Linked DNA regions of Homo sapiens. The protein of the gene in region 2 purifies or fractionates together with the protein of the main gene of each other region. This does not show direct contact. Each region holds a gene or a part of one and is shown on either strand. Other genes may lie near its edges. The genes, in order: L2HGDH, NT5C3A and CA5B.

The links.
Region 1: the proteins of NT5C3A (region 2) and L2HGDH purify together in Homo sapiens (affinity purification with mass spectrometry; one large-scale study listed by BioGRID and IntAct). This does not show direct contact.
Region 3: the proteins of NT5C3A (region 2) and CA5B fractionate together in Homo sapiens (co-fractionation; one large-scale study listed by BioGRID). This does not show direct contact.

The regions. Positions count from the first base shown.
Region 1 is NC_000014.9:50,246,210-50,249,862, reverse strand, and holds part of L2HGDH (L-2-hydroxyglutarate dehydrogenase, mitochondrial isoform 1 precursor), read left to right. Parts: intron 1-2,609; coding exon 2,610-2,805; 3' UTR 2,806-3,653.
Region 2 is NC_000007.14:33,017,765-33,021,417, forward strand, and holds part of NT5C3A (cytosolic 5'-nucleotidase 3A), read right to left. Parts: intron 3,594-3,653; coding exon 3,508-3,593; intron 1,961-3,507; coding exon 1,871-1,960; intron 1-1,870. UniProt on the Homo sapiens protein: Nucleotidase which shows specific activity towards cytidine monophosphate (CMP) and 7-methylguanosine monophosphate (m(7)GMP). CMP seems to be the preferred substrate.
Region 3 is NC_000023.11:15,772,619-15,776,271, reverse strand, and holds part of CA5B (carbonic anhydrase 5B, mitochondrial precursor), read right to left. Parts: intron 1,971-3,653; coding exon 1,875-1,970; intron 1,027-1,874; coding exon 964-1,026; intron 1-963. UniProt on the Homo sapiens protein: Mitochondrial carbonic anhydrase that catalyzes the reversible conversion of carbon dioxide to bicarbonate/HCO3.

The DNA.
Region 1 (3,653 bases), on a different chromosome or scaffold from region 2:
GGGACCCCAAGAACCTGCTTGTTGCTCTACCTCACTGTGGCTGAGCTGGTACCTAAGGTGTAAGACAAAGTCCCCTTTACTTTTATCTCTGCTTTTCTCAAACAGAAGGAGTCTTTCACTGTAGCCACCACAGCTGGGAATGTGCTGGGTCACACCTGAAGCCAGCACATCTCAGAGTCTCATCCAAGGCCCATGACGCACTCCTTGGGTATCGCTGCTGGTTATTCAGGGCCCAAGGGCTCTTTAGTCAGCAGGTAATGTATCCTGCTAGGACTGGGTTTTTCCCTCCAAGGCAGTAGGTTCCCTTTTGGCCCGGGGTGGGTCTAGAAATGTTGTTCAGGAGCTAGGGCCTATAATGCGGGCCTCACAACTCTGCCCAGTGCCATATCCTACTGTGGCTGAGCTGGAATCCAAGATGTAAGACGGTCCTCTTTACTCTTTGCTCTTTGCTCCTTAAGCAGAAGAAAGGAGTCACTTCTATTGCAGCTGCCTTTGTTTGGGGGATGGATGATGCAAGCACTCTTTTAGCTATGCCGGCTGGTATCTCCCTAGATCACATGCCACCCTAGTCCACTGACTATAAGCCCAGCCTAGTGCTAGTAGCTGAGGAGTTGGAGTCCTTGTGCCCTAGACTGTATTTCAAGTTTATCTAGGACCCCAGAGCTTTTCAGCCCACGGTGGTGAGGCTTGCAGGGAAACTCAAGTTCTGACCACTGGGATGGATGCTTCCTGTCTAGCTGGGGCAGGTCCAAATGCTCCCTCCATGTGCTGGCGCTGGCTGAGCCCAGCCCAGCTTTATTCTCCACTGTGACAGGGCAGCACTGAGTTCAGTGTAAAGGCCCCCAGCCACTGTACCCTCCCTTTCCCAAGTGCATAGGTTCTGTCTCCACACCACATGGCTGGCTGCTGCTAGGGGGTGAGGGAGGGGTGGCATTGGCGATGCAAGACCATCTTTTCTGCCCTCCTCAATGCCTCTTTCAAAGATATGAAGTCAAAACCAGCCACTGTGATTGCTCACCTGATTTTTGGTTCTTGTGACGGTGCTTTTCTGTGTGCAGATAGTTAAAATTTGGTGTTCTAGCAGCCGAACCAATGTTTGTAGGCTTCTTTTCCACCGTCTTGCTCCACTCACTCCCATATCTGATTCTTACTTGGAAATTCTTACAGCTAAAAAATCTCTTGTCCAGATTCCCTGCAGGATTCTATAGGGAAGATCACTTATCTTTATCATACAACCTTTCACTCTTACTGTTATAATTCTTATTTACCTCTCTACGAATGAATAGTATAGCTCTGTGATTTCAGGCAAGTTACTTAATCTCTCTGTGTTTCTTTGCTGTTAAATATAAACTGTGTCAGCCTCTTAAGAGTTGTTTTGAGGATTAAATGAGGTAATTCCTAGCACAGAGTAAGCACTTACTAAATAATAGCTATTACTATTATCTCTCTTCAGCCAGCTGAAGTCTTAGAGGGCAGTGCCTTCATAGTGTTCTTTGTATCTTCTGCAAGTACTTATCTGATTTGTCCCAGAATTAGTAAAAAATGTTTAATATTGTTTCCTGATTTCTTGAGCCTTGCTGGTGTGTATAAGATAGAATTTTTCACACTGGGCTTCCTTGGACAAGTTTCATAAGAGGTGCTTTTTTGTAGTTCAAAAACATTGGATTCAAATTTCATCTGTAAATTTTAACTGTTTAAAAAAACAACAAAAATCTGTGAGCTCAAATGTTATAAAATAGAATTTTAAGTAATAAAGATTATCAGTGTCTTTACAGTTGTTCACACCTATAATCCCATCATTTTGGGAGGCTAAGGTGGGAGGATCACTTGAGGCCAGGAGTTTGAGACCAGCCTGGGCAACGTAGGGAAACCTTGTCTCTACAAAAAAAAATTTTCTTTAATTAGCCAGGCGAGGTTGTGTACACAACCTGAGCAACAGATCAAGACTATCTCAATTAAAAAAAAAAAGACTCTCATTTTATTAACATGCTGCTAAATTTATTTTTATGCTTTTCCTATCATCTTTTGAAATTGAAGATGATCCTGATATTGAAGGGTAAACTCTTAAAAACAAACTGCAAAACAAGAACTTGTTGCCATTTGCAAATATTTCTCTCCATAAATTTTAATTGTGTGAATTTTAAAAACACAAAAATAAGTAGAATAGGATACAGGAATGCAACTGACACATAACCTCTGCTTTCATTGATTTGTATTACTCAGATGAGGCTTATTGTTGCCATTGATTGATTTTTATAATAAATTCATTCTATAAATTTAAATAAAAATATACCTGTTCTAATTAAGTGTGGATTTACCTACTACCTTTGGAAAGAGCAGACATTGATAAATAACTTACTTGTTTTTATGTATTTCTTTGATAAGCGTTTGTTACACTATTGTTACGTAATAGGTTTTAGGCTCTAAGCTAACAATATAGGTTTGACAGGCTACAACTGACAGCCTTTGGTTAAACATAAACTCATTGGGTTTCCATATAATTGTGCATTTAGAAGAATACTTTATTGCTTTAAGACTTTTTGGAAACGCTGACTTGTAAAGTATCCTATGTCTTTGAGTCAGCTGACTCCCATCTTTTACTTTTGCAGGGGCCCAGCTGGAGTAAGAGCCCAGGCCCTGGATAGAGATGGAAATCTGGTAGAAGATTTTGTATTTGATGCAGGAGTTGGGGATATTGGAAATCGCATTCTTCATGTGAGAAATGCACCTTCTCCTGCTGCTACTTCTTCCATTGCAATTTCTGGAATGATTGCAGATGAAGTACAACAAAGATTTGAATTATAAATAATGAAAGGAGCTAGGTATGCACTGTAATCTTCATGTCAGCAACAAGAATGTACTAATTGCATTCTTTAATTTAAAAAATGGTTTTTAAACTTTAGTTTTTAGGTCAAAGATAACCACTGCATTGTTAAAATGATGTAACATAGAAATAATAATTTTCTACAAAAATTAGCCAGGCATGGTGGCGCATGCCTGTAATCTCAGCTACTCAGGAGGCTGAGGCAGGAGAATCAATTGAACCGAGCAGACGGAGGTGAGCTGAGAGCTGAGATTGCACCACTGCACTCCAGCCTGGGTGACAGAGCAAGAAAATAATAATAATAATAATTTTCAAAATGTTAGGCTGGGGGCCGTGGCCAGCACTTTGGGAAGCCAAGGCAGGTAGATTGTAGCCCAGGAGTTTGAGAACAGCCTGGGCAACATGGCAAAACCCTGTTTCTACACAAAGTTAGCTGGGTCTGGTGCCTCTGTAGTTCCAGCTCCTCAGTAGGCTGAGGTGAGAGGATCACTTGAGCCCAGGAGGTCTAGGCTGCAGTGAGCTTATGTTCATGACACTGCATTCCAGGCTGGATGATAGAGCAAGATCTTGTCTCAAAAAAAAAAAAAAAAAAAAAAAAAATCCAGCCTGGGCAACATAGTGAATGAAACCCCATCTCTACAAAAAATACAAAAATTAGCTGGGCATGATGGTGTGTGCCTGTAGTCCCAGCTACTTGGGGGCTGAGGCAGGAGGATCGCTTGAGCCCGGGAGATCAAGGCTACAGTGAGCTGTGTTCATGCCACTATACCCCAGCCTGGGCAACAAAGTGAGTCCCTGACTCAAAAAATAAAAACAACAACAAAAAATA
Region 2 (3,653 bases):
AGTTTTTCAAACAACAGTTAACTCTTTACTTTCCCTTTAATCAATTCTAATACTACAAACTAGATGTCTTTAAGCTTTCACTGAATATGAATATAAACCTACAGTTCACAATTTATACCATTTAAAAAGAAATAGGCAGGCATAGCAGTGCATGCCTATAGTCCCAGCTATTTGGGAGGCTGAGGCTTGAGGATTGCTTGAGCCCAGGAGTTCTAGTCCACTCTGGGCAACATAGCGAGACCCTGTCTCTAAAATGAAATTTAAAAAGAGAAAACAATAGTTAAGCTACACCTTGAAAACCCCACTTAGGGGTTAAAACATGGATATATTAACACTGAGAAGGATGGAGTCCCATAGTGGGCCTATCAACTTGGCCTAACTTAATGGATATATATTGACCAACAACAAATACATTTACATGATTAAAATATTTTCAGATTTTAAAATTATGAAGAATGACTTGATATTCTTACAGTTTCATCAAAATCCATAAAATTGAAAAGAAAAGCAGAGTGGCAGGAACTTAGATGTATTCTCGACATCTGGCATGTGTCTTTACTAAGATCTTAAGCCCTCTTCCCTTTTTTACCCTTCCTGGGCCATAGGTTAAAGAATGCTAATGTTGCCTACTAAGGAATGAAACACTTACTAGCTGTCCTCACACTTTTTCTGACAATTTATTGCTTTCCTTTTTAGAAGTAATCACCTTAAAATATAACATCATCATAAAAAAGTAACATCATCATATTTGCCTAATGAGTTGAAAATTTTACGAGGTAATAAACAGTATTAAACAGGCTCTTGGGCCGGGCGCAGTGGCTCACGCCTGTAACCCCAGCACTTTGGGAGGCGGAGATGCGCAGATCACAAGGTCAGGAGATCGAGACCATCCTGGCTAACTCGGTGAAACCCCGTCTCTACTAAAAATACAAAAAATTAGCCGGGCGTGGTGGCGGGCGCCTGAAGTCCTGGCTAGTCAGGAGACTGAGGCAGGAGAATGGCGTGAACCTGGGAGGCGGAGCTTACACCACTGCACTCCAGCCTGGGTGACAGAGCGAGACTCCATCTCAAAAAAAAAAGAAAAAAAAAAGCTTCTTGTATCTTATAACTCATGCATACATATATAATTATGTACTAAAACATACTAATCTTTCCTAGGAATAGTTTTCAAAGAAGTTCGAGAATTTAAAAAGTAGGCTTATGTAAATTTAGACATAGTATACTGCCAGGCATGGTGGCTCACACATATAATCCCAGCACTTTGGGATCGCTTGAGCTCAAGAGTTCAAGACCAGTCTGGGCAACATGGTGAAATCCCATCTTTACAAAAATATACAAAAATTAGCCAGGCATGGTGGTGCATGACTGTAGTCCCAGCTACTTGAGAGGCTGAGGCAAGGGGATCGCTTGAGCCCAGGAGGCAGAGGTTGAACTGAGGAAGAGATTATGTCACTACACTCTAACCTGGGCAACAGAGAGAGACCCTGTCTTTAAAAAAAAAAAAAAGTATACTTAAATCCCTTTTAACTTGATTTATACATTCCTTTCATATGTCTTTCCTAAGTATTTTGCTAAAAAATTTTTAAATGGCCTTGGTTCAAAAATTTTAAGTCTTGACATTTTTAATCTGGAGAAACAAAATACAAATTAGAATTTAAATCTCATAAGGCTCTTACTACCTACACCAAGATCTAATACGTCATTCTAAATTCCTTATCTTACCACTATGTATTTTGTGATAGGTGGCATATTTTGGATATGGTTATATAAGGAATATTCAATCTTATTTTTAAAAAGTACAACTGACTACATAAATAGCAATAATTCAAGTCTGTGAACAATAACAGCAAAAAACATCCAAGAAACTTACTTGAGCATAACGTCAGATTCTGCCACAATTTCTTTAAGTTTAGCTTTTGGTAAAGCTTGCTGAACAAGCAAACCATGTGATTTAGTATACCTGGAGTTTATGACCAAAGGAAAAAAGACTATCAATTAAGACAAACTAAAATTATTATCTTTATTACAAAACATTCTTCCATGTGAGAAAATCTGTTCCTCATATTTGGATTTAAATTTTAGAGATTGAAGTTCATCACTAATGAATGTATACCTCATGTCTCAAAATGTGATATGCATGTTCTTACTGAGTTTCCCAGTCCTCCCAAACCCAGACTTAGCTTAAATATGTTAGTAAGGTAATGAAAGGAAACTAGCTATAAACCTTTCCTAATTCTACACATAAAAACTCAACCCAACCTATGGAAGCATAATCCTTTCTCTGATTGCAGTAAAATGAATTAGAGCAACCCCATTTTTAAAATTTGTTTGTAGTTTGAATTTTCTACATACTGAAGATGCTACTTAGTGAACAAGAGAGAAAATCTTTGTTATGGCAAGTGTCATATACAGATTAGCCTGCTTTATGTAGAAAACACCTATAATCATAGCATCTCAGTATAAAGGGCCCTTAGACTCTCTAACCCATTACAATTATGCAAACAGCCACTAAAAACAGAAAGAAAGAAACGAAAAGAAAAAAAAGCCTAACTCTTCATCTGATACCTAAAAATACCCCTATAATATTCCTAAGTCACCTTCTTCCCTGCCTGGGTCAGCTTCTAACATGTCAGTAAGCTCATTCTCCCAGGGAAGCTTATTCCATTGCCAGAAAACTCTTAATTGCTAGACAGGCTTTTCATTTCTCATGCTGAAATCAATCTTCTTATATCTTCCAAGTCTAGTTCCAGTTCTGCTGCTACCAGTTTGTAGAGTTAAGTCTAATATCTTTTCAACATTTAGTACCACAAATACAGATGAAGTATGCAACTGTTACGTAACGGGACAATAAAGACAAATCATTCCTGGTCTCCTAAGATTTTAAAACAAGTTGTTCCTTCTCAAATCAAAGCATTTTCTATTCCTTGAAATGTTCGTCAAGTGGGAAGGCTCAAATTCCTCTGATCATTCTGGTGGACTACTCTGACTCCTTTTAAGTTTGTCATGATCTATTTTTTTTTTTTTTGGTCACTATTGTCATGGTTTCTCTTAACAGCATTCTTCCAGAATCCGACACAGTGCTTTCAGTGTGATCTGCCTGGAACACTGCATTTTGATTAATGCAACCAAAGGTCGATTTTTGGGTAACCATATCACCTGCTGGCTCTGAGTTCAGACTCAGTTTAAATCCTCATACCTTTTCTTTACACATTAAGCCACGTTTTGTTCATATACTTAAAAAAAAATTCTTGTTTTTAATTTGAGACTTAAATGCAGGACTTTTAATTTATTCCTACTGGACTTCACCTTAAATAAACAAAACAAAAGGATTCCTAAACTGTTAGAGAGATTAGATAATTAGAGCTCATTTTGTTATTCAATGCTCTAACTTGCATAATTTATTAATCTGTTTGTTTGCAATACAGGTAAAAAATAAGCCATCAGTTGTAACTGCAGTGTTGTTTTATTATTTTTTTTTAATCCTCCTACTGCCTAATATACACTTACCATTCCACCATATAAGGGTACTTCTCTTCTACAGTAAGAACAGGATCAACTTCAATAGCGTAATATTTTTCCTTTAGTTGCAATAACTAGGAAGATATGAATAACTTAATCATGAAGATTACTTGAAAATAAATCTGCTTGGTTTT
Region 3 (3,653 bases), on a different chromosome or scaffold from region 2:
CGCCTCCCGGGTTCACGCCATTCTCCTGCCTCAGCCTCCCAAGTAGCTGGGACTACAGGCGCCCGCCACCATGCCCGGCGAATTTTTTGTATTTTTTAGGAGAGATGGGGTTTCACTGTGTTAGCCAGGACAGTCTCGATCTCCTGACCTCGTGATCCGCCAGCCTCGGCCTCCCAAAGTGCTGTGATTACAGGCGTGAGCCACTGCGCCCGGTTGGAGGCTTTGCATTTTCGAGAGGCTAACTGAGAATTGTCCTTTTAAGAAGAAATGCAGCTCAGGAGGAGCCAGAAACCTGAACTAAAAGGAAAGAGAGGGAAAAACAGGAAAATGGAGATGAGAGGAGAGGGAAAGAGGTAGGGACCAGAAGGTCAGAGTGGGGGATGGGGGGAGATAATATACGGGCTTCCAGAGAGGAAAGGAGAGGGAAAGAGGTGGGGACCAGAGGGATACAGTGGGGGATGAGAGGGAGAAGAAGAGAATATATGGGCCTCCAGAGAGCAGCCCTTTGAGATTCTGAATATTGAAGAATTAATATTGGGGGACTGGACAAAGGCATCCGACCTGAAGGATGTGGATTACTGTTCTTTCTAGCTGGACAAGGCAAGTTTCTGTAGAACTGCGCTCTGCTCCCTGCCTGTGGGATGGCAGCTACAGAACAGAAGGCTGCTCTGGGTGTGTTCACAAGGACTTAGAAGGAGCCGGTGTCAGGAACAGAGGAGGGGACAGCAATATGTTCCTGAGTCCCCAAGTCCTCAGCGGCACTGCAGCAAAACCAGAAAGCTCACTGCCTACCCACAGAATGATGACTTCTGTCCCCTGGAATCATAAATGGCAAGTTTTCTTCTAAGGCTGAATACAGTTCACCTAATTAAACTTCCCAATTCAAAGTGCCTTGGTAATGTCTCCGCTCTGAGATTGAAACATAAAAGTATATTTCAAGTAATTAAGGAAAACAAATAGTACCTTATGCTTAATTGACGGCAAAGTATCCACTAATTTCTGTAGCTCCTTATGATGTTTGCCTAGCTAAAGAACAACAAGTAAGAAAATATTACAAACAATGGACATCTCACTGTAGAAACTGTAACAGAATGTGAATTAAAATTAACTACCTGGTGATTACATAAAAACAAACTGCATGACTGAAATTACACTTAAACTTGTAATTTATAATTTTATAAACATTACTGAATTAAATTAGAGAACAAATCAGCAGGCTGTTTGCTGACAAGGTCAGCATGCCTGCAGTGAAAGGTGCCCCCTGCTTCATTTAAGTTCTTAAATTGAAATTAAAATTAAATAAAATGAAAAATGGTTCCAGAACTGCAGTAGACACATTTCAAGTGCTCAATTGCCACATGTGGCTTGTGACCACTCTATTGGGCTGTGCATTTTTATATCATTTAAAATATATATATTTTTTTGGTGGTGGGGGGGATGGAGTCTCGCTCTGTTGCCCAGGCTGGAGTGCAGTGGCACAATCTTGGCTTACTGCAGCCTCCACCTCCCAGGCTCAAGCAAGCGATCCTCCTGCCTCAGCCTCCCGAGTAGCTAGGATTACAGGTGCGCACCACTATGCCTGGCTAATTTTTGTATTTTTAGTAGAAACAGGGTTTCCCCATGGAAGCCAGGCTGGTCTCGAACTCCTGACCTCAAGTGATCTGCCTGCCTCGGCCTCCCAAAGTGCTGGGATTACAGGCGTGAGCCACCATGCCTGGCCCTAAAATATATTCTTAACAATCCTGTACTTCAAGCACTATTTATCTTACCAATGTATGGATCCCAACATTCTTAAAGTAAATAACAATATTATACTGTTCTATCTTTTCATCCTAGAATACAACACGTCATTTAAAGTTGGTGAGATATTTTACCTTTAAAAATACTCCTATCACAGCCAAACCATTTTCTTCCAGTGCTGCATCCTCAAAGTTTTCAAATCTGACTGCGTTCCAATGCACTAAGTGCAGCTGAAACACCATGAAAAGAGGGTTAACACGTGACTATACAGAATCTCTCCAGAATAAACCCACAGCCTCAGTCAACCTATGACATTTAAACATGTTTCCTCACCCAAAGTAAAGCCACCAAGAAAACCATATGACAATCCAAAATGAGATAGAAACAAAGATCAGGAAGAAATTTAGGCAAGAGCAGCAATTAATATTATTTTAGAATAAAGGGATTTATTTGGGGAGAAAAATAGAAAATTCATATAACAAAGTGACACTTCAGTGAGCAATCAACATTTGTCCAGTCCCATCTTGATTTGAATGAAATACCAATATTCGAAATCCACTTGCATCTACAGGAGAGAAGATGTTTATATTGAGAGAAATAGATCCTCCATATGGAAATTATGCAGGAGTTAAAGACAAATTTCTTCTTCAAGGAATAACCATTTAAAATGTGCTTTTAGGCTGGGTGTGGTGGCTCACACCTGTAATCTCAGCATTTTGGGAGGTCAAGGTGGGAGAATCACTTGAATCCAGCAGTATGAGACCAGCCTGGACGACATAGTGAAACCTTGTCTCTACAAAAAAATTTAAAAATTAGCAGGGCAGGCCGGGCGCGGTGGCTCACGCCTGTAATCCCAGCACTTTGGGAGGCCGAGGTGGGTGGATCACAAGGTCAGGAGATCGAGACCATCCTGGCTAACACGGTGAAACTCCATCTCTACTAAAAATACAAAAAATTAGCTGGGCGCAGTGGTGGGCGCTTGTAGTCCCAGCTACTTGGGGGGCTGAGACAGGAGAATGGTGTGAACCCGGGAGGCAGAGCTTGCAGTGAGCCAAGATCACGCCACTGCACTCCAGCCTGGGCGACAGAGCAAAACTCTGTCCCAAAAAAAAAAAAAAAAAAAAAAAAATTAGCAGGGCATGGTGATGTGCGCCTGTTGTCTTGAGGTGGGAGGATTGCTTAAGGTCGAGGCTGCAGTGAACCGTGATTGTGCCACTGCACTCCAGCCTGGGTGACAGAGTGAGACCCTGTCTCACAAAGCAAAATAAAATGAAACAAATATAAAAAATATAAAATAAATTTTTAAATGGGCTTTTTTTACATAACATTTACAATTGAATTAGGAAAAAAGTTGTAAGAAGAAATTCTATTTCCTTAAAATCTCCCTTTATTTCCCTACAAATCATTCCTCATTCATCAGTTATGAGTGCATTATCACCCAGCCTCCCAAGTGAGACACCACAAAGTCGTGGTTAACCTTGCCTTCTCCTATCCTGAAGAGAACCCTACCTTCAAGTCCTGTTGCTTTAATTTCAGAAATGCTTGATAAATCTTGCCCTTTTTCTCTATTTCTATTGCCACAGCCTTCATTTAGGCTCCCACCACCGCAAACTTGCATTAATTCAACCTGTGGCTCCACAATGTTCCCTGGGTTATTACTTTGGGCTACTATTTGAGTCCACTTTCGAATTCCAGAAGAATTCAGTTTCAGGATCTTAAGGTTCATTTCAACTATATTATTTGAGATGAGAGAAGTTAACATTTTTACATGTCTTAGCTGAGAATGATCAAAACTGCCTGAGAAAGCTATTTAGCATTTATAGGAATCACCTGATTCTAATAATGTCTTACAACTAAAAGTTCAGAATTATCCCCACTTCTCTACAGTTGTCACTGTTCCTGACCTTCTCAAC